Regions from separate parts of the Homo sapiens genome. Here region 2 is linked to region 1. Evidence: fine-mapped expression QTL. A gene starts in region 1. The other region holds a variant in brackets. All regions are shown on one strand. Distances are from middle to middle. Region 1 holds the start of ANKK1 (ankyrin repeat and kinase domain containing 1). Region 2 holds the start of TTC12 (tetratricopeptide repeat domain 12).

Region 1 (9,600 bases):
TCTGTGATATTTTTAATCTGTCTTCTCTCATCCTCTTGGGTTCACAGGAACCAATGACATCTGCCATGGCATGGAAAAAAGCATGGGATGTGGGAATCACACTGCCCTGATTTCAAATCCCAGTTTCACCCGTTATTATCTGTATGACCTTGGGCAAGGGAATCCTCTGGGCCTCAGTTTCTAAACTAAAAACTGGGAATAATTGTAACTACCTTGCACAGTTCTTTCATAGCTTCCTACCCAGAAGTCTTGAGAGCATTTACTGCTGTCTCTCCTCTTCATCATCTTGCTGCACCCACTTTTGTCTAGTTTCTGGTACCTGCACTCCCCTGAACACCTGTGGCTAAGGTCACCAACAGCCTCTATGTTGCTATATCTAACCAATAATTTTCAGTTCTCAGTGTATAGTTCAGATCTCTGACTCTTTTTCTTGAAACTTCGTTACTTGAGCCACGTGTCAACATTCTCCTGCTTTTCTCCTACTTGTCTGGTCACTTCCTCTCTGTTTTCTTTGCAGGCTCATATCCTGTTACTTGACCACGGGGCTTAGTCCAAGCCCTTCTTCTCTGCTCTTCTCCCTCTATAATCTTTCTATAGTCAACCTCATCATCTCCAATTGGATATTCAATACCAAATGTGTCTGAAGCTAACCTCCTGATTTTCCCCTGAAACCTGCTCTTCCTTTAGTTTTCATCATTTCAGTGAATGGGGCCTCTGTCCTTCTAGTCCTCAGAATAGGACCCTGGTGTCATCTTCGACTCCTTTCTTCCTCTCACTTCCCACAGCCAAGTCTTCGCAAATCCTGCCAGCACCACCTTCAAAATACTGTCGAGCAACAAGCTGACCACTTCTCACCACCTCTCCCCCAAGGTGCATCTCAGCCCAAGCCTCCTAATTGGACTCTGTTTCTCCCGCTTCCTCTCCACAATCTATTCTCAACCCAGCAGCCAAAGTCATATTTTAAAATCTAAGTCACAACATGTCACTGCCCTTCTCCAATGGCTCTCCTCATTCACAGTAAAAGCCAAAGTTCTTTCATGGCTGAGAAAGTCCTACAAGATTTGTCCCCAATGCCAGGCATAGCTTGCTGACCTCCTTTCCTAATCACCCTCCTCTCATTGTGCCCCTGGCACACGGGCTTCCCACTGTTCCTCCACCATGCCCAGTGTGGTCCCACCTCAGGACCTTTGCACCTGTTGTTCTCTCTGCCTAGAACACTCCTCCCTAACAGAGCCACATGGATTACCCCTTCATTTCCTTCAAATCTCTACTCAAATGGTACCTAATTAGTATGGATTTCACAGAGAAGTCTACATAAAAAAGCAACCCCATTCCAACTCTTATATTCCCCATACACAGAGGGCCCTGGCATTAATATTTTTAGACCAACCCATTTCTTGGAAAATCAGACTTCTCAACCCTTCTTAGATATTTTAATCAAGAACTGTCAGGTGGTCATGAGTGCTATAGCTAAAAAGTTTATTATTCATTTGCTATTTATTTTGTCTTCCTCCTTTAGACTATAAGCTTCATGAGGGCAAGGACTTTGTTTTTTTCACGTAGTGCTTGGAATGAATGCATCTCCTCCATGCCTTTTTTTTGCTTTGTTTTTTTTTTTTTTTGAGACCAAGTCTCACTTTTGTTGCCCAGGCTGGAGTGCAATGGCATGATCTTGGCTCACTGCAACCTCTGCCTCCTGGGTTCAAGCAATTCTCCTATCTCAACCTCCTGAGTAGCTGGGACTACAGGTGCCCACCACCACGCCCAGCTAATTTATGTATTTTTAGTAGAGATGGAGTTTCACCATATTGGTCAGGCTGGTCTTGCCTGACCTCAGGTGATCCACCAGCCTTGGCCTCTCAAAGTGCTGGGATTACAAGCGTGAGCCACCAGGCCCAGCCTGATGCCCTAGTTTTAATGACCACTTATAACAAATGACTCCCAAGTTTTAATATTGTTAGCACCAACCTTTACTCTGATGTCCATGACAACTCTTCTTGGTTGTTTAAAGGCATCTGAAACTCAACAGGTACAAAGCTGAACTCATGATCTTCCTCTCCAAGTCTAGGCCTCTTTTCATAGTCTCTCCATTAATTGTCAACACTGCCATTCAATAAATATTTATTGAACACCAACTCTGTGCCAGGCACAGGAGACAGAGCTGTGACCAAAACAGACACTCTCATGGAGTGGACATTTTAGTGGATCCTCCATTCCTTTGGGCAAGCCAGACATCAAGTTAGCTTTAATACCCCTCTTCCTCATCGTGATCCTCCCCATGACTAATCCAGCACCAAGTCGGGTGGATTTTTACCTTCTAAATATGGCTTGACCCATTCCTTTCCTATCTCCACTACCAACACTCCACTCTAGCCCCTATTATCCGTCTCTCATCAGAATGAAGATAACAATCTCCTAACTTAACCAGAATCCACTCTACCCCTCCCAATGCATTCTCCATACTGCAATTCTGATTAATCCCTCCCATGGTCACCACCGCTACCTGGTTGTAAATGCTCAGTGGTTTTCCACTGCTCTTTTACTCTCCCAACTCCAGCCATCATGGCCTTTTCCCATCTTTGTACTTACCATGCCCCTCTTGCCACAGATTCTTTGCACACTCTGTTGTCTGTTCTTGGAAAACTTTCTCCTCCTCACCTACTTAACTTATACTCATTCTTCACATTTCAGCTGTAGTGTAACTTCTTCAAGGAAGCCTTTTCTGATATCAGTCAAACTTTCTGTTAATGAGCTCTCCTAGAGCCACAAATCTCCCCTTCTTAAGCTTCTCACAGTAGCACATTTACATTTACATGTGGGGTTATCTGGTTAATGTCTTCCTCCCCCTAGGCTGCAATCTCCCGGAGAGAAAGGACACATCTGTTGCATTCATCGTTAATCCCAGGGTGTAGAACAGTGCCTGACACATAGTAGAAGAGCAGTAAGCATTTGTCAAGTGGATGAATGAATGAATAGCTGGAAAGAGGATCTAGTAAAGTAATGCACGTAAAGCTCCTAGTATAGTAATCCATACATACTAAGTCTTAATTACCATTAATTATCTTACCCCCTCCACCCAGGGAATTCCCAGAACTTGGGAAGGGAAAGTGGCAGGAGTTAGCATCAATGTCTCACAGTGTAATCATGTCACTGCCATCTGTTTCCTTTCGTTCTATATTCAAAAGGCTATAAATGATTTAGACAAATCCTAGCATACTCTGACCCTCCTCCAAAACCAACAGGCAGATGTTGAGGGAGGAAGGTGAGTGGGCCTTAGGCGATCTTATTTTTCCTCTCCTCATAAGGTGGGGGAAGGCCTGGGAACTGAGTGTGTGGCACCTGAGGCTGTATCTTAAGAGTTTGCATGGTAATCCTAGAGAACCACAGATAGCATCCAAGCCAGATGCCAGTCAGAGAGACCCCCGTCCCGGACTCTCTAATTGATGTCCCAGAGCCTTGGGAGGAGGACATGGTTATCATGCTCAGGTTTAACATCCCGAGTGTCTTCTTCATGGCTGCAAGGTGCAAGCACACAGCTAGTATATGCAACTCCAGTGGGAATGAGACTGGATTCCAAATCAGTGGGAAGACAGAGAATAATGGAAACGTAGGAAAGAGGTAGGAAGAGAAAAATAGGGGCATGTCAAGGCGTCGCTGTAGTGCGCATGACAGCAAGGGACAAAAACAAAAACAGAGATGAGAGAACTCCAGACTTGACCCTCCAAGGGCCTGGACAGGCCATCAGGCCGGGCAGTCTCCATCCCCTGACCTCCTCAGCCTGCACTGATTGGGAGGGGCCTCCTCCCTCCCGCCACCGTGGGAAGAGAGAACATGATTCCCTGCAGATCTGAGCAAAGTGCCACAGCCTCCCAGGATGCTCAGCCCTGCCCTGAGAGCTGGGGTGGGTAGGAGGATGGCAGAGAGCGGTCAAGAGCAGTTATTGCCACAGGACACCGGGGGAAGAAGGCGCTGGAGAGAAGGATGGAAGCAGGCAGGACAAGTTCGGAAGGTCAGATGGGATAAAGGCGTCTTTGGTAGGTAGTTCCCGCTTGCCTTTGACCTCTGTTGAGTCTACAAACAGGTATTATGTGCCAACTCTATTTTGGTTAGGGAGACAGGTATGGGTGTGCCTGGGAGGCTCAGGCTACTGGGTGGAATTCAGAAATACCGCGGGGGACAGTCCTCAGCCCCAAACTCAGCCCACTCCTTCCTCGCAAGCTCCCTGGGCCCAAAGCTTGCCGGGCCTCAGTTTCTCCTCCGAGAAAGGGGAGGGCGAGGCTGGCAGTACCTGGCGGCGTCGGGTGGAAGGCAGGGGGCGCACTTGATGGCGTACTCCGTCCGCCAGCGCCTGTGCCGCGCCTGGAACACCTGGCTGAAGCCGCCGCTGGCCACTAGGCGCCAGTCGCCCTCGAAGTCGTCGCGGGTGAAGACGGGGAGGCTGCCCAGCCGCAGCTCGGTGGGGTCGGCAGCCATTGCCCCTCTCTTCCTGTCCCCGCGCCGCGCACTCCCCGCTGTGGCTGCTGCCTGGGTGGCCGAAGGAGCCGCCGCTTCCTGCTCCTCGGGTCCGGGAGAGGGGAATGGGGAGACGAGCCGGCCCTGCCTCCTTCCCCGCCCAAGAGGAGCCGCTCCTGCCCCGCAAAGGTGGGGAAATCCCAGACATGAGCCCTGAGGCCCCAGCAGGGATGGAGCGACCTGGGCCTGGGGAAGAGGGTATGTCCCTCCGAAGCCCTCGCATTTCCCCTGTCTCAGCCTTTGATTTTCCCCAGTTCCCCCTAGGGAGGGATGCTGGGAGAAGGTGTCCCGAAGCTGGAAGAAGTCCAGCCTGAGAAGTTGGATCCAGTTTATTTAGGCCCAGCGCTAAGTGAAATCGGTTTATGCATTCCTTCAGTGCATTCAAGGTTTTATGGTTTATGAAGGATTCAGGCCTGGACCCCTGCCCCTATCCAGCAAGTATGGGGCTCAAACAATTTTAATGGGGATTTTCTGGTCTGAATCTGTTGGTCTGACTGGTTTCATGTTTCCTTTGTTCTTGTTGGGGTTTTGTTTGTTTGTTTGTTAGCCAGCCTTGGTGTGCTATAGGTTACCAAGGAGGGGTCAGCAGGGACAGAGTTGCGGGGGAGGCTGGGCTCCTGTCTGCAGGGGACTCCCTTCCTGGGCTGCGCTCTATCCAACCTCAGAGGGATGGACCCCAGCCTCGGGGTGGCCACGGGGGAGGTGGCCTCCTTGGCGCAGTTACTAGGGGCAGTTTGTTGCCAGGGATGAGAGGAGGCTCTAGCTGGAGCCTGACCAGTGCTGAGCTTGGAGGTTCCCCTGGGTCCTGGGTCCATGGGATTGCCCTCTCACCTTGGAGACCCTCAGAGCAGGGAAAATGACAAGTGCTTGAACAGACAGGTCTCCCCAGGGGCACTGACCAAGTGGGCCATTGCCCAGAGACAGGCATACCTGGAGGAACTGTGGCCACGGAGTGCAGAGTCAGCCACTATTTGCCTACAGCTGAGTAAGTCCACAAGGAGCCCTCAGAGTGATCACTGTTAGGTTTGAGGAGCCTACCTACCAGACAAGGAAGTGCCTTGCCTTCAGCCCAAACCTGCAGAGCCCCTCGTCCATGCCACAAGCCCACCAGACTCCCAGGGAACAGTGTAGGCATGATAGGCAAACAGAGACTCCCTGTGGAAGCTGGAGAACTTGCTCCCTCTGTAACAACTTACCTGCAACTTCCAGGATGAATTCTGGCAAGCAGATTAAGGATCAAAGATTGGGCCTGGAGACAGTTGTCATAGAAACTAGTGATAGCCACTACTAATTGAACACTCACTTTGTTCCAGGATCAGTGACTATTTCAGTTACTGCATTGCTTTACATATATTATCCTGTTTATCTTGCAACAATGTTATGAGGTCAACATCTTCTATTCACAGATGAGGAAACTGGCTTCAAGACAATAAGTAATCAATGGACACATAGCTAGTAAGTGGTAGTTGATATTCAAACTCAAGTCTCTTAGTTTCTATGGAAATGGTTGGCCAGGGGAGGATCAGGGAGTAGCCTTTTATGAATACAAAAAAGGAAGAGAGAGAGTCATGCTCCCTGGAAGAGGGTGGAGATGATGGAAACTGCATCAGGAGCAGGACGTATCCCCCAAACATATGTCAGAGGGAGGCCCCCAGCTTGCTTTGGCTGGAGCAAGACAGGGCATAACAGAACCCATTGTCTCTGGAGTAGCCCTGCCTGCCCAAGTTTAAAGCCTCTGCCAGAGAAGTTTGGAAGGTGATAAAGGACATTGTCATCAGGGAGACCAGGAGGTCAAGAGGATGTTTCATACCTTCTACTGGGAGGGTGAACATGGAGACTGGGAAGGTGACCAGCCACCCAGCTCTGCGGAAGTTTGACTGAGGCCCGATCTTTGACATTCAGCGAGACCTATCTCAGCTCCTGGAGGAAATACCAAGGGTGAATGGCCTGAGTCATTTCAGCAGTTCCCCTTGATCCACTTATACCTGAAGTGGCTCTCCAGGGAGAGGAAGTAACCAGAAGCTGCCATTGTCTGCCTGCAGAGACTGTCACAGGAATACTGAAGAAAGCATCATTCCTAGAAGAGGGGACACCCAGGGCTCAAGGCATGTTGCCAGAATCCCGAACAAAATACCTCTGAATTTCTCACAGGGGTGGAGGTGGAGGAACTGCAGGGTCAGGGCGTATTACTGCTGACCCACCTGTTGAAACTCTCTGCTGTGGGTTCAAGCACCCCTGAGGCTTCTGAGGAGTCAGTCAAAATAGATACATTCATTGACCCAGAGGGACTGGATCATTTGACTGGGCTTGTCCTGCTCCTTACAGCTGTCTAACATGGGCTAGGGCAAAGGCCTAGTAGTCTTTGGATAAGCTCTGGGAGAAGTTGTAAGTGGAGGGACCCTTTCTGAGTATAAGGTCACAGAGGCAAAGAACTCCTGGATCTCTCATTAAAAGTGGGGTGAGGTATAGGGATTTGCAAAAGAGTAAAGTCAACTCAGAGGCTGCTGGTTTCTTTCCAGTGGTCTGAGTGCAGAAGTCCCTAGGTCCTGGCTGGTTGGGAAGTCAGCAGCCAGTGTGTGGAGGGGAGAGAGCTGGGGGGTTGGGAGGGAAACTCTACCTTTACCCATATCTACCTACAAATGGGAATGGATAATGAAGTGGTTATAGTCCAATTATGACCCCCACCCACCAGAAGGGGCAAGGAACAGGTTCTAGCTATAGAAGTTTTACCCCAAAATGCTCTGAGTCCTTCCAACTAACCTCTATCAGTGCATTTTGTTTGGGCAGATTGAAGATGGAAGTGTTCTGGATTTGGAGTTATTAAATGAATTTTGTGTGTATGTGTGATTGTCTTTGGGGAACCTAAGATTTTTAGCCTGCTCCTCCCAGACAAGTGAGCTGGTACAGGAGCTCTGCAATACTTTAGAAGATGCTGAAATCTGATGTGAGCCTTTCCCCAAACCGGAATGACAAGCTATTTGCATATAGGGAAGTTTCCCAGTCTGCCCCTGTTCTCCACCCTGCAAACATGTCACGGAGAACCCTGGACAGGTTCTGGCAGGCCCCAGCCTCTGGTAGCTTGTGTACTGAGGTTGGTCAGGATAAAGGAATGTATGCAGGAAAGTGGAACATCTGTTCAGGAAGCAGGACTCCCAGAGTGAAAGGGATTGAATGAGGCAATAGGAACAGGGTTTAAATGTGGGAGTGAGTCAGTCAGTCAGACCCGCATTTAAACCCTGGCTTCTTTCTATCACTTAGCATTTGTTTAACCTTGGTCACATTATCAAATCTTTCTGGGTTTCTCCATCTGTAAAATAGATGATAATCATAATAACCATTCCAAAACATTGCTATAAGAATTATAACCTTTAAAAATATACCTAGTATATTAGTATAATATTATACTAATATAACATAAAAATACAATATAATATCATATTAGTTTAATATACCTAGGATATTTTTAAAGGTTATAATTCTTACAGCAACCTTTTGGAATGGTTATTATGATTATCATCCATAAAATATATCTAAATACTAGGTATATTTTTAAAGGTTACATTCCTTAGGTATATACTAGGAATACTCCTAGGCAAAAAATATGAACCAGCTGATACTTCACACCTGAAAAATTAACTCAAAATGAATCATGGACTTAAATATTAAATGTAAACTTATAAAAATTTTAGGAAAAAAAAAGGAGAAAATATTCTGGACCTAGGATTAGATGAAAAGTTCTTAGGCCGAATCCCACAGGCACAATCCATAAAAGGGAAAATTGATAAACTGAACCTCATCAAAATGAAAAACTCTCACTCAGTGAAAGACCTGGTGAAGGTGAAGAGAAGAGTGCAGATGGGGAGAAAATGTTTGTAAAGCACATATTTGACAAAGTGCTGGTTCATAGAGTATATAAGGAGGTCTTCAAACTCAATGCTAAAAAAGCATCAAATTAGAAAATGGGAAAATACATTTCTCTGAAGAGAATATACAGATGACAAATAAGTTCTTGAAAAAATGTTTAATATCATGAGCCACTAAGCAATGCAAGTAAGATATCACTAACTACCTATCAGAATGGCTAAAAATAAAACTGAAAAGATAGTGGCAACGCCAAATGCTGATGAGGATGTAGAGTAATGGGATCACTCATACGCTGGTGGAAATGTAAAATGGTATGGCAATTCTAGAAAAGAATTTGGCCATTTCTTATAAGACTAAACATATGATTACCATACAACCCAGCAATTGCACTCTTGGGAATCTATCCCAGAGAAATGAAAACAGTGTTCACACAAAAATCTGTATATGAATGCTCATTGCAGCTTTATTTGCAATAGCTAAAATCTGGAAACCGCTCAGATGTCCTTCAACCAATGAATGGCTAAACACACCATAGTGCTGTATTATGGAATAGGACTCAGCAACTACTGATATACACAGCCACTTGGATGAGGCCCCAGAGAATTCTATTGAGTGAACAAAGCCAATCATAAAAGGTTACATACTGTATGACTCCATTTATATTGCATTCTTAAAATGACAAAATTATAGAGATGGAGAACAGATTAGTGGTTGTCAGAGGTGAGATTGGGGGAGAGGCAGGTGGGTGTAGCTGTAAAAGGTTAGTGCAAAGGAACCTTGTGATGAAACTATTCTGTATCTTAACTGTGGTGGTGGCCACATGAATCAATGCATGTGACAAAATTCCATCAAATTAAATGCACACACAGATGCACACACACACACAAATGAGTGCATGTAAAACTGACGGCACCTGTGTAAGGACTATGGATTGTATCACTGATTTCCTGGTTGTAATGTTGTGCTATAGTGACATAAGATGTTACCTTTGGGGGAAACTGGGTGAGGGTATCTCTGCATAAGTTCTTAAAATTGTGTGCTTATCTGTAATTATCTCCAAGCAGAACATTTAAAAAATACAAATAAAGCCCCCTTCTTCTCTTCTTCCTCCTCCTCCTTTTCCTCCTCCTCCTTTTCCTCCTCCTACTTCTCCTTCCCCCTTCTATTTCTCGTTCTTGTCCTTATTACTAGGTAATGTTATATTCTTGGAAGGAAAATATTCCC
Region 2 (9,600 bases), 70 kb after region 1:
CAGTTCTGGTTTCAGCTGGACTCACACATATATCCATGGTCAACTGTCAGTCATCTAAGTGGCTCTGCTTTAGAAAGTCTGCTGGCTGTTGGCTTGAGAAATGCAAGCAACCCGGGTAAGTGTGTCTTACTTTCTCATGAGTGGTATGAGTGCAAGCCCTAATTCAAATGCACTTTTCAAGCCTCTGCTTGTGTCATGTTTGCAAACATCCTTTTGGCCAAAGCAACACACATGGCCAACCCAGATTCAAGTGGCAGAGAAATAGGCTCCACTCTTGATGGGAAGAAAGGAATTTGTAACCATTCTTGCAATCTACCAGAATATTTGTGTATGTAATATTTAAACAATTTTTTAAAATAGTTGTATAAAATGTGCATTCATTTGCAACCTACTTTTTTCTCTTAAGATGCTTTAGAGATGTGTTCTTGATACACATGGTTCCAGTTGATTCATTTAAACCATTATATATACCATAGTTAATCCATTCTCTTATTGATAGCCAGGTGGTTTTTCAGTTTTTTCTAAAGTAAATAAATGCTGAATTGAATACCTGTATGTACATATTTCCTTGTGCACATGTTACATATCCTTCAGGATATGGCTGTACCAATTTTTACTCCTACAAAAGAGTACAAGAGGAAGTTCCCATTCTTCTACATTCTTATCATCACTTGCTGGGTTAAACTTTTTAATTGTTGTCAATGTAATGGATGGGAATGGTATCTCATTGTTTTAATTTGCATTTCGCTGAATTTGATTGGAATTGAGCATCTTCTTATTGATTTGCACCCATTTGGATTTCTACGAAGAGCCTACTCCTATCCTTGGCCAATTTTCTATTGGGTCATTGTCTCTTTCTTATTAGTTAATATAATTTCTTTTTTAAAAAATTCTTTTTTTTTTAAGAGATGGTCTTGCTATGTTGTCCAGGCTCGATTTGAACCCCTGGGCTCAAGCGATCCTCCTGCTTCAGCCTCCTGAGTAGCAAAGACTACAGGCACACACCACCATGCCTGGTTGATTTGATTGTGAAACAGGGGAGTTCTCTGATCCCCCTCGCAGGACATGCGACAGGGGTGTGGCTTGCCTGTTTAGTCACCACCACTGCTCAAACCCCTGAGGGGAGGGGGAGAACGCAGACGGACAAGTGCAGGAGCCCAGTTGGGCACGTGTTACAGCGTGTCCTTTTAGCCCTGCCATCTGCGGACGACTTGATTGTTAACCAGCTTGACGGACATCTGCCTTTTCACAAGGGCAGAGGGAAGTGACAGCTTTTTGTATCCCGAGCTCTTGCCCAGCATCCCCGGAAGAATCAGGTCACACACAGGACTAAAGGATGAATGTGGGGTTTTACTGAGTGGTGGAGGTGGCTTTCAGTGGGATGGATGGGGAGCTGGAAGGGGGAATGGAGGGGAAAGATGATCTTCCCCTGGAGCCTGGCCATCCAGTGGCCCAACTCCCCTCTGGCTGCTCCCAGCCAAACTCCTCTCGGCGTTCAGACATTCCTCCTCTTTTCTCTACTGTGTCGTTCTGCCATTTGTCTGCTTGTGTCCTCATCTCACCTGCTCGTCTGCTTCTGGAGCCTGGGGTTCAGAGTTTACATGGGCACAGGATAGGGGAGCATGGCAGGCCAAAAGGCAACTTTTTGGGCACGAAAACAGAAATGCCTGTTTCCACTTAGCGCTGCAGATCTCCCGGCTTGAGGGTGGGGTCTTTGCCAGGGAACCACCCTCTTCTATCCACTATTCCCATCTCCTACCCGTATCAGTTGTATATATTCTGGACTGGTTACATGTATTTCCAAACATCTTCCCCTTGGGTATTCTTTGTCTTTTCATTTGTTTTTATGGAATATGTTGTTGAAGAGATTTTCTTTTTAATTTTAGTGTGTTAAATATACCATCTTTTCCTTTACAATTTAGGTCTTTTGTGTCAGTAAGGTTATAAATATACTCTCTTATGGTGTCTTATAAAAGTTTTAAAGTTTTTTTCTTACTAAGGTATGTAATTCACCTAGAGTTGACTTTCACGTAGGGCAGGAGCATTATTTGTTGAGAAGTCCCTGCCAGCAATGTGTCTCATCATCCCTGTTATGTGTGCAAATCTTCTCCAGGCTCTTCATTCCTTTCCCCTGATTGTCCTTTCCAGCACGAAAACCTCCATGCATTGATTACTATGGCTTTATAATAAATCTTGAATGTCAGGTAGGGAAAGTTGTCCTGCTTTTTTTTTTTTTCCTGCAGAGTTTTCTTGGCTCTTCTTGGTCCTTTGCTCTTCCACGTAAACTTTGGAATCAGCTTGCTGAATTTTAGTACATACTACTTTGCGGGTTTTGATCTAAATTGTATTTACTGCATAGAATATTTTAAAAATTGACATTTTTACCAAATAAGTCTTCCTAGGATTAAATACGTCTCCATTTATTTAGCTCTTCTTTCATGTCTTTTAATTAACTTTTTTTTAAATTAACTCAACTGCACACTTTATTCTAATTTCATTGTTTTTTCTCCCTAATGCCCTTTTCCTATTCCAGGATCCCATCCAGAACACTACACGACATTTAGTCATGTCTCCTTAGGCTTCTCTAGGCTGCGACAATTTCTCACCCTTTCCTTATTTTGATGACCTTGACAGTTTTGATGACCTTGACATTCTATGAGTTTGCATAGAATACCTTGCAATTTGGGTTTATCTGGTATTTTTCTCACGGTTAGACTGGAGTTACAGGATTTGGGGAAAAAGACCATGGCACATTATGGCGTATCAGGGATGCATGCCATCAGTGTGATTTATCAGGAGGTTAACCTTGATCATCTATCTGAAATTGTGTTTGCCAACCTTTTCCACTGTAAAGTTACTTTCTTCCCTCCCTTTCCATACTGTACTCTTTGGAAGCAAGTCACTAAATGTATCTCACATTTAAGGGGTAGAGATGCTCCACCTCCTTGGGGGAAGAGTCATTACATAAATTAGATGGAATTGATTTACTGCTCTCGGTAAACACAAATTCCTTACCATGGTTTCCAAGGTCTTTCCTAATCTGGCCCCTCCATATTCAGATGGGACTCTTCTCTCCTTGATCTCTTCTTTCCAGACATTTGGGGCTTTTTATTCTTTTAGTTCCTCAAAAGCACCACACTCTTTCTTCACTCTTAGCTTTCCTACCTCCTTACTTCCCACCCAGGACACTCCCCTGTCATTTTCCCAGTGACCAACTCCGACTCACTCTTCACATTTTGCCTAAATCTCACTTCTTCTGGAAAACTTTATTTAATTTCTGTTATGGACTAAATTGCATCCCCCCCAAAAATTCACATGTTGAAGCTATAACTCCTGGTATGACTGTATTTGTAGATAGGGCCTTTAAAGAAGTAACTAATCATTGCCCTAATCCAATATGACTAGTGTCCTTGTAAGAAGAGAAACACCAAATATATGCACGTACAGAGAGATGACCATGTGAGGGCACAGCGGGAAGGTGCCCATCTGCAAGCCAAGGAGAGAGGCCTCAGAAGAAACCAAACCTGCTCACACCCTGGTCTTAGATTTCTAAACTCCAGAACTCTAAGAAAATAAAGTTTTGTCATTTAAGCCAGCCAGTCTATTTTGTTACAGCAGCCCTAGCCGACTAATACAACCTCCCAAAGCTGGGTTAGATCCCTACACTTTGTAATTCTCTGTGTCTCATATTGCATACTTGAAATTACTGTTTAATATCTGTTTTCTCCACTGGACTATTAATACCATGAAAAGAATAATTCTTTGACTGTATTCTCTAGGCCTTACCAACACTCAACACATAGCAAGAGCCCAAGAAGTAAATGTACAGAATCTATACACATGTGGCTACATAAATTTAAATTAATTGAAACAAGCCGCATTTCAAACCTGGGCTGCAGCCACAAACACACAGAACCCTAAGCACTAGACCACAGGGTGGAGTTATAAGCCATATTTCAAATGCTCAATAATCATGTGGCTAGTTGCTACCATAGTGGACAGTGAGGATTATGGAACATTTTCATCATCACAGAAAGCTCTATTGGACAGCACTGGTATACATGATACCTGAATGAACTTTGAGTATGCATAAGTTAGCCAGGTTAAAAAAAAAGATGAAGAGGCAGTGGGAATGGCAAAGATCCAGTGCAGAGTGTGAAACACAGAGTATGTGTGGCGAAGTATCAGCAGTTTATTGCTGCTCAAGCGTGAGGTAGGGAGATATGAGAGAGGTAAGGACAAGGTCATGGGAGGACTTAAGTCCTGATGAGAGCTTGGGATTTATTATGACTGCAAAAGGAATCCAAGCAGAGAAGTGTCTGGGTCAGATTTGCATTTTAGATACATTACTCTGTGGGAAGTATAAGCCTGGAGACAGGAAAAACAATCAGGGGGTTGTTGACATAGTCTGGGTGAGAAGAACCAGAACAAAGGGAGGGCTGGAGAGGATGGCTCTCCAACCAAACTAGATGGCTAATTGGATGCAGGGTTATGAGTTGGGAGGAGTCCCAGATGACCTGTAAATTTCTGGATGGTGGTGTCACCAACTGAGACCAGGATGAAGGTGAGGGTAGGAGAAGCAGGTTTTATTTGGGAGGGGGAGGGCAAAGGGGAGGGAAAGAGATGATGCCTCAATTTTGGACACATTTAAGTTTATTTGTGGGATACAGTAGGTATGACAGTACCA[T/C]AGAGGCAGAGGCTCAGAAAAGAAGGCTAAGTGTCCATGTAGATGTGGGGGTCATGAACAAACAGGTGGCAGGTAAAGCTACATGTTTAGACCAGCTGAAGAGAAAGGTGGCAGTGGGCCAAGGCCAGAGCTCCATGGAACAGCATTCAGGGATAAGCATTATTCATGTATCATTTACGATGTCACCCAAGCTAGCTTTAAAACCACTTTATTCCTTGAACCCATACAATCTGCTACAAGCAGCAATTTCAGCATATTGCCTGTATTTACTATGTAAGGTCTGTTTGCTTGTTGGTTTGTTTGTTTCTATACTCAAGCAAGCTCCCTGAACAGGGACTGACAGGTTTGGAAATTCCTGAATGTGATCTGTGGGATCAGAGTACATTTCTTTGAGATCCAACCTGCCTGAACTTGGGAAAGGACTTTCTTGTCTAGAGAGAGAGAAGGGAATGATGATCATAAACCATCCATGTAATTTGATGGATCCTAAAGGAAAGCCATTTGATTTTGCCTCTGCAGCTCTAAAACAGAAATGGCTCTACTCTAAAACGGGAGGAATCTCACACTGATCAATGAGGTTCTTGACCCTTGAAGGGAACAGCTGGGTTCATTGTCAATGGGGAAACAGCAGCTGGTTTTGACTGGATTCCACATAGAAGGATACAAAATATGGAAGAAAACCGTCAGCCTGAATTCCTATCAGAATGTTAACAGTTTCTCTGATACCAATTAACAGCCAGAAAATACAGCCCTGAGGCTATAACTTGTTTCTCAATACCCTTCTCTTTAATTTCAATTACATTTTTTTCCTAAGAGTTATAAACCTGTCAAGCCACCCAGGAACTTAGAGCAATCATTTATCTACTCCACTTCTCTAAAGCAGAAATTAATTTATGATTTACTAGTACTTACAGATTTCATCCACATTTTTAAGAAATTTCTGCAAATCTTTCTCTTTATCAGCATCCATTGTGAACCGGAATCCCTAAGGGATGCAGCATAATGGTGAAATTAATAATAATAAAGCACTAAACAGAACGGTCAGGCTTATTAGCCTTCTAAAACTAAGAGCCAAGTGATTATTTTTATGACAGTTTTGTTTATGTCAATGAATAACAGCAGGGTGATCCCTTTCATTCCAACTGCTGTTTTAGGCCAAGAGGCACTCATTTACGTGCGGCAATGCTTCCAGAAAGCTTCCAGCCCTCCTTCCAGTGCAGAAAACGCTCTGCAAATAGTTCTTCCAAAGCCAACATCAACCCCGGCGATTTAGGGACCTGGCATGGAGATGAGAAGAGAGCAGATGACAGGTTGCCAAGGATAGAGAAATACACTAACACCTGACTTTGATCATGACAGGCTGGTCTAGTCAGAAGCTTAAATGTGGATGTGTGACAGGTAACAAACTTGGGGCAATTTGCATCTAAATGTCCATACTTGTTTAAAATCTGCCTTTGGCTTGTTTCTGAAGAGTGAAGAAAGGGTACAAATTGACTGAAGGGATTAGAACATAATGTTACCATGCTCACCAGCGTCTCTTCTGCTCTAGGTACCTCAGATATTATTTTACAGTTGTTTTTGTGCGAGAAGGCCCCGTGGTGTACCCAGCAGTACTCAGTGGTTCATCCACAGATCATAAAAATCATCGGGAAGATTGTTAAATATACAGCTTCCTCAGCCGTAGCCCGAGATTTCAAGTCAGTAAACCCGGGACATTGCCCAGACACGAATATAGATTTTAAACACTTTCCAGGTGATTCTCATTTATGGCCAGGTTTCATAGTAGTGTAACACGCTTCTAACACGTAATCTGCCACGAACAAACTACGAGTGATTTAATCGAGTCTCAGTGTCCTCATCTCCACCAGTTACAAGCTGTGTGATTCTGGCTAAATTCACAACCTCTCCGAGCCTCAGAGTCCTCACCCATACTATGGGAACAGTAAGAGAGAAACTACGAGGACTATTCTGGGGACTGATGTAAAGCACCAGGCACGCGACGAGTCCTCACCGTGAAGCACCCTTACCTATATAAAACAGGGGGTGGGGTTGCGGCTTAACTGAATAATCGCTAGGGTTTCTTCCAGGTCAAATCTTTTCAACTCCCACGGAACAGAGGCCTAGTCCAGTGAATTAATCTGCCCAACGGTATGAAGGTTAGAAGGCAGGCGCGCGGGTGCATGGACAGGAGACAACCTCTGTCTCCCAGGGCATGGATCTCAGGGTCCTCACTGCCTGGCCAGTGCCCCCCTACGCTAGGGTGAGAGGGCCAGAGCCAGGTGATGGCGAAGCGGCGCCGCGCTCAGTGCTTCACTCGGTAGGGCTGCGGCAGCGGGGACCTGTGCCCGAGCCCCGCGCGGAGCCTGCCCCAGACGCGCGCTGCCCGCCGGGCGCAAAGAGGCCAGGCCGCACGCACTGTTGCCCAGCAACCGCTCCCAGGCGTCCGCAAGTCCCGGGCCCTCCATGCAGGTCCCAGACCGCAGCCGTCCCAGACCGCAGCCAAGACCTTCCCATGCTCTGGGGCCCAAAGCAGCGTCCTCTGCTCGGCTCTGAAGGCCAGTGCAGGACCAGCTCCCAGGGGGGATTCCGGGGTACCCCGCGGCACCGACCTGATTCGCCCAGCTTTGGACAGGAAATGGCGCAGTGACCTGCCTGGGCTGGGGCGGGGCCAGGAGCCAGGGGCCCGGGGCGGGACCAAGGGCGGGGCCAGGAGCCAGGGCCCGGGGCGGGACCAAGGACGGGGTCAAAAGCCAGGAGGCGGGACAGGGGGCGGGCATGGACACGCGATCAGATTCGCTACCGCAGAGCTCTAGCTCCGGAGCGCGCCAAGTTGAAGGCCAAAGTCGAGGTTGGGATGCCCGATGCCTGGCGCGGGGAGACGGAGGAAGCAAAGTGCTGGTAACTAAAGCAGCGCCTGCTGCTCGCCTTTTTTCTACTGAAGAAGGGTTGTCTCACTCCCGTTAGCTTAATATCCTTGCCCAAAATGTAAAGTCTCCAGTGTACTTGTGAATCCGGTTTTGTTCATTGATAAATGTGTGAGTTAGAAGACTCACACATTTATCCTTAGGAAAGTTATTTGAGTAACCTTTTTAATCCTCAGTTTTCTCACCTGTGAAATGGAGAAATGGCACTTTCTCATAAGGTTTATGGTTAAAGTGCTGTAACCGCCCAATAGGTTCACCTTGCTCACTGCCTAAACAGAGTCGATTTATCAAGACAGGGGAATTGCAATAGAGAAAGAGTAATTCACACAAAGCTGGCTGTGAGGGAGACCGGAGTTTTATTATTACTCAAATCAGTCTCCCTAGCTTTCAGGGATCAGAGTTTTTAAGGATAATTTGGTGGGTAGGGGTCAGTGAGTCGGGAGTGCTGATTGGTAGGCTAGGAGATGAACTCACAGGGAGTCAAAGCTGTCCTCTTGTGCTGAGTCAGTTGCCAGGTGGGGGTCATAAGACCAGATGAGCCAGTTTATTCATCTGGGTGGTGCCAGCTGATCCATCGAGTGCAGTGTCTGTGAAATATCTTAAGCACTGATCTTAGGTTTTACAATAGTTGATGTTATCCCCAGGAGCAATTTGAGGTTTAGAATCTTGCAGCCTCTAGCTGCATGACTCCTAAACCATAATTTCTAATTTTGTGGCTAATTTGTTAGTCCTGAAAAGGCAGTCTAGTTCCTGGGCAAGAAGGGGGTTTGTTTGGGAAAGGGCTGGTATTGTCTTTGTTTCAAAGCTACACTATAAACTAAGTTCCCCCCAAAGTTAGTTTGGCCTATGCCTAGGAATGAACAAAGACAGCTTGGAGATGAGAAGCAAGATGGAGTCGGTTAGGTCAGATCCCTTTCACCATCTCAGTTATAATTTTGCAATGGTGGTTTCAGTGCCTGGTACCTAGTCAGTAGGAACAGGTGGCACGTGACATCCGGGGAATCATAGGGTTTAGAACAGAATGAGCTAATAGGCACATTCATTCATGCCCCAAATACATGCACACAGCCCTAAAGAAATTTCAGTCTGTTTTTCTAAACAAAATCTCAGAGTATTATGTGCAGGGTTACCAATGGAAAAAAAGCAGGTTTAGGGGAAACTTGAGCTTAAGTTCACGGTCAGAAACACCCGGAACTTCTTGGCAAATGAGTGCTTTATGGAAACCTGTTTGGCAGGGAACAAGGAGCCCCTAGAGATGGAATTCGCCAGAGGGGAGAGGGATCCAGGCATGGCCAGCTAGCTCTAGTGTTGATTCCAAGTACAGCCTGTTGACTCTCTTGTGGCCTAGGCCCCATAGGATGCATGCCTGTGTCCTGTAGAGAACAGAAGAGCTGTTTGGCTGAAGTCTCTATGATGCATTGGTACACATACCATCCTGCTTGGGTACCCCTCTAATGCAGTATAACACAAAGGGGCCACGGATGTTCTGCTCCTCTTGGCAGCTGAATGGGTACAGCATCAGCAGAGTGAGTCTTTTGGCTCATCAACTGCAGCAGGAGACCTGGGGATCCCAGCAGGACATGGTCACAGTGGCTGTCCCAAGGGAATGAGGTGCCTCAGGAGAAGTAGCAGACAGTGTAGGTGCCTGGCAGGAGCAAGGACGTTGATGAGCACAGGCTAGGCACACCATAGGGATCCTCAGAAAGATATAGGGTACTTCACAGTGACCTTCCAGCCTGTGGGAATTGATGGAGACAAGAACCAGTGATGTTTTGGTTATCACCATTAGTATCACCCCATTTTCCTCTTAGGCCTGTGAGGCCTTGAATACATGAAGGCTATATGCCTATGGTCCCCAACCTCAGGGTGTTTCTTATCACATTGAGGCCAATAGTTCCAAATCACTTACTTCCTATCCTACTACTCTTTTCACTAAACTCCTTTCCTAGGTTCCAGAGGTATCTGCCCACAACTGACTGTACCACCTAA

What was found. PIP is the estimated chance that this variant, and not a neighbour inherited with it, causes the effect.
Region 2: its variant is fine-mapped to the expression of ANKK1 in whole blood (TOPMed, PIP above 0.99). The same link has a PIP of 0.9 or more in blood mononuclear cells.

Annotation. Positions count from the first base shown.
Region 1 is chr11:113,382,758-113,392,357 of GRCh38, reverse strand. It overlaps ANKK1 (ankyrin repeat and kinase domain containing 1), which reads right to left and starts at 4,579. Exons shown (of 8, transcript NM_178510.2): 1 at 4,289-4,579. The coding sequence starts at 4,473.
Region 2 is chr11:113,312,315-113,321,914 of GRCh38, reverse strand. TTC12 (tetratricopeptide repeat domain 12) reads right to left here and starts at 7,332. Exons shown (of 22, transcript NM_017868.4): 1 at 7,297-7,332; 2 at 5,600-5,672. The coding sequence starts at 5,657. TTC12-DT (TTC12 divergent transcript) reads left to right here and starts at 7,459. Exons shown (of 5, transcript NR_199709.1): 1 at 7,459-7,585. RefSeq lists silencers at 6,962-7,061, 6,954-7,248, 7,272-7,521. The variant T/C (reference allele first, on the strand shown) is at 4,688.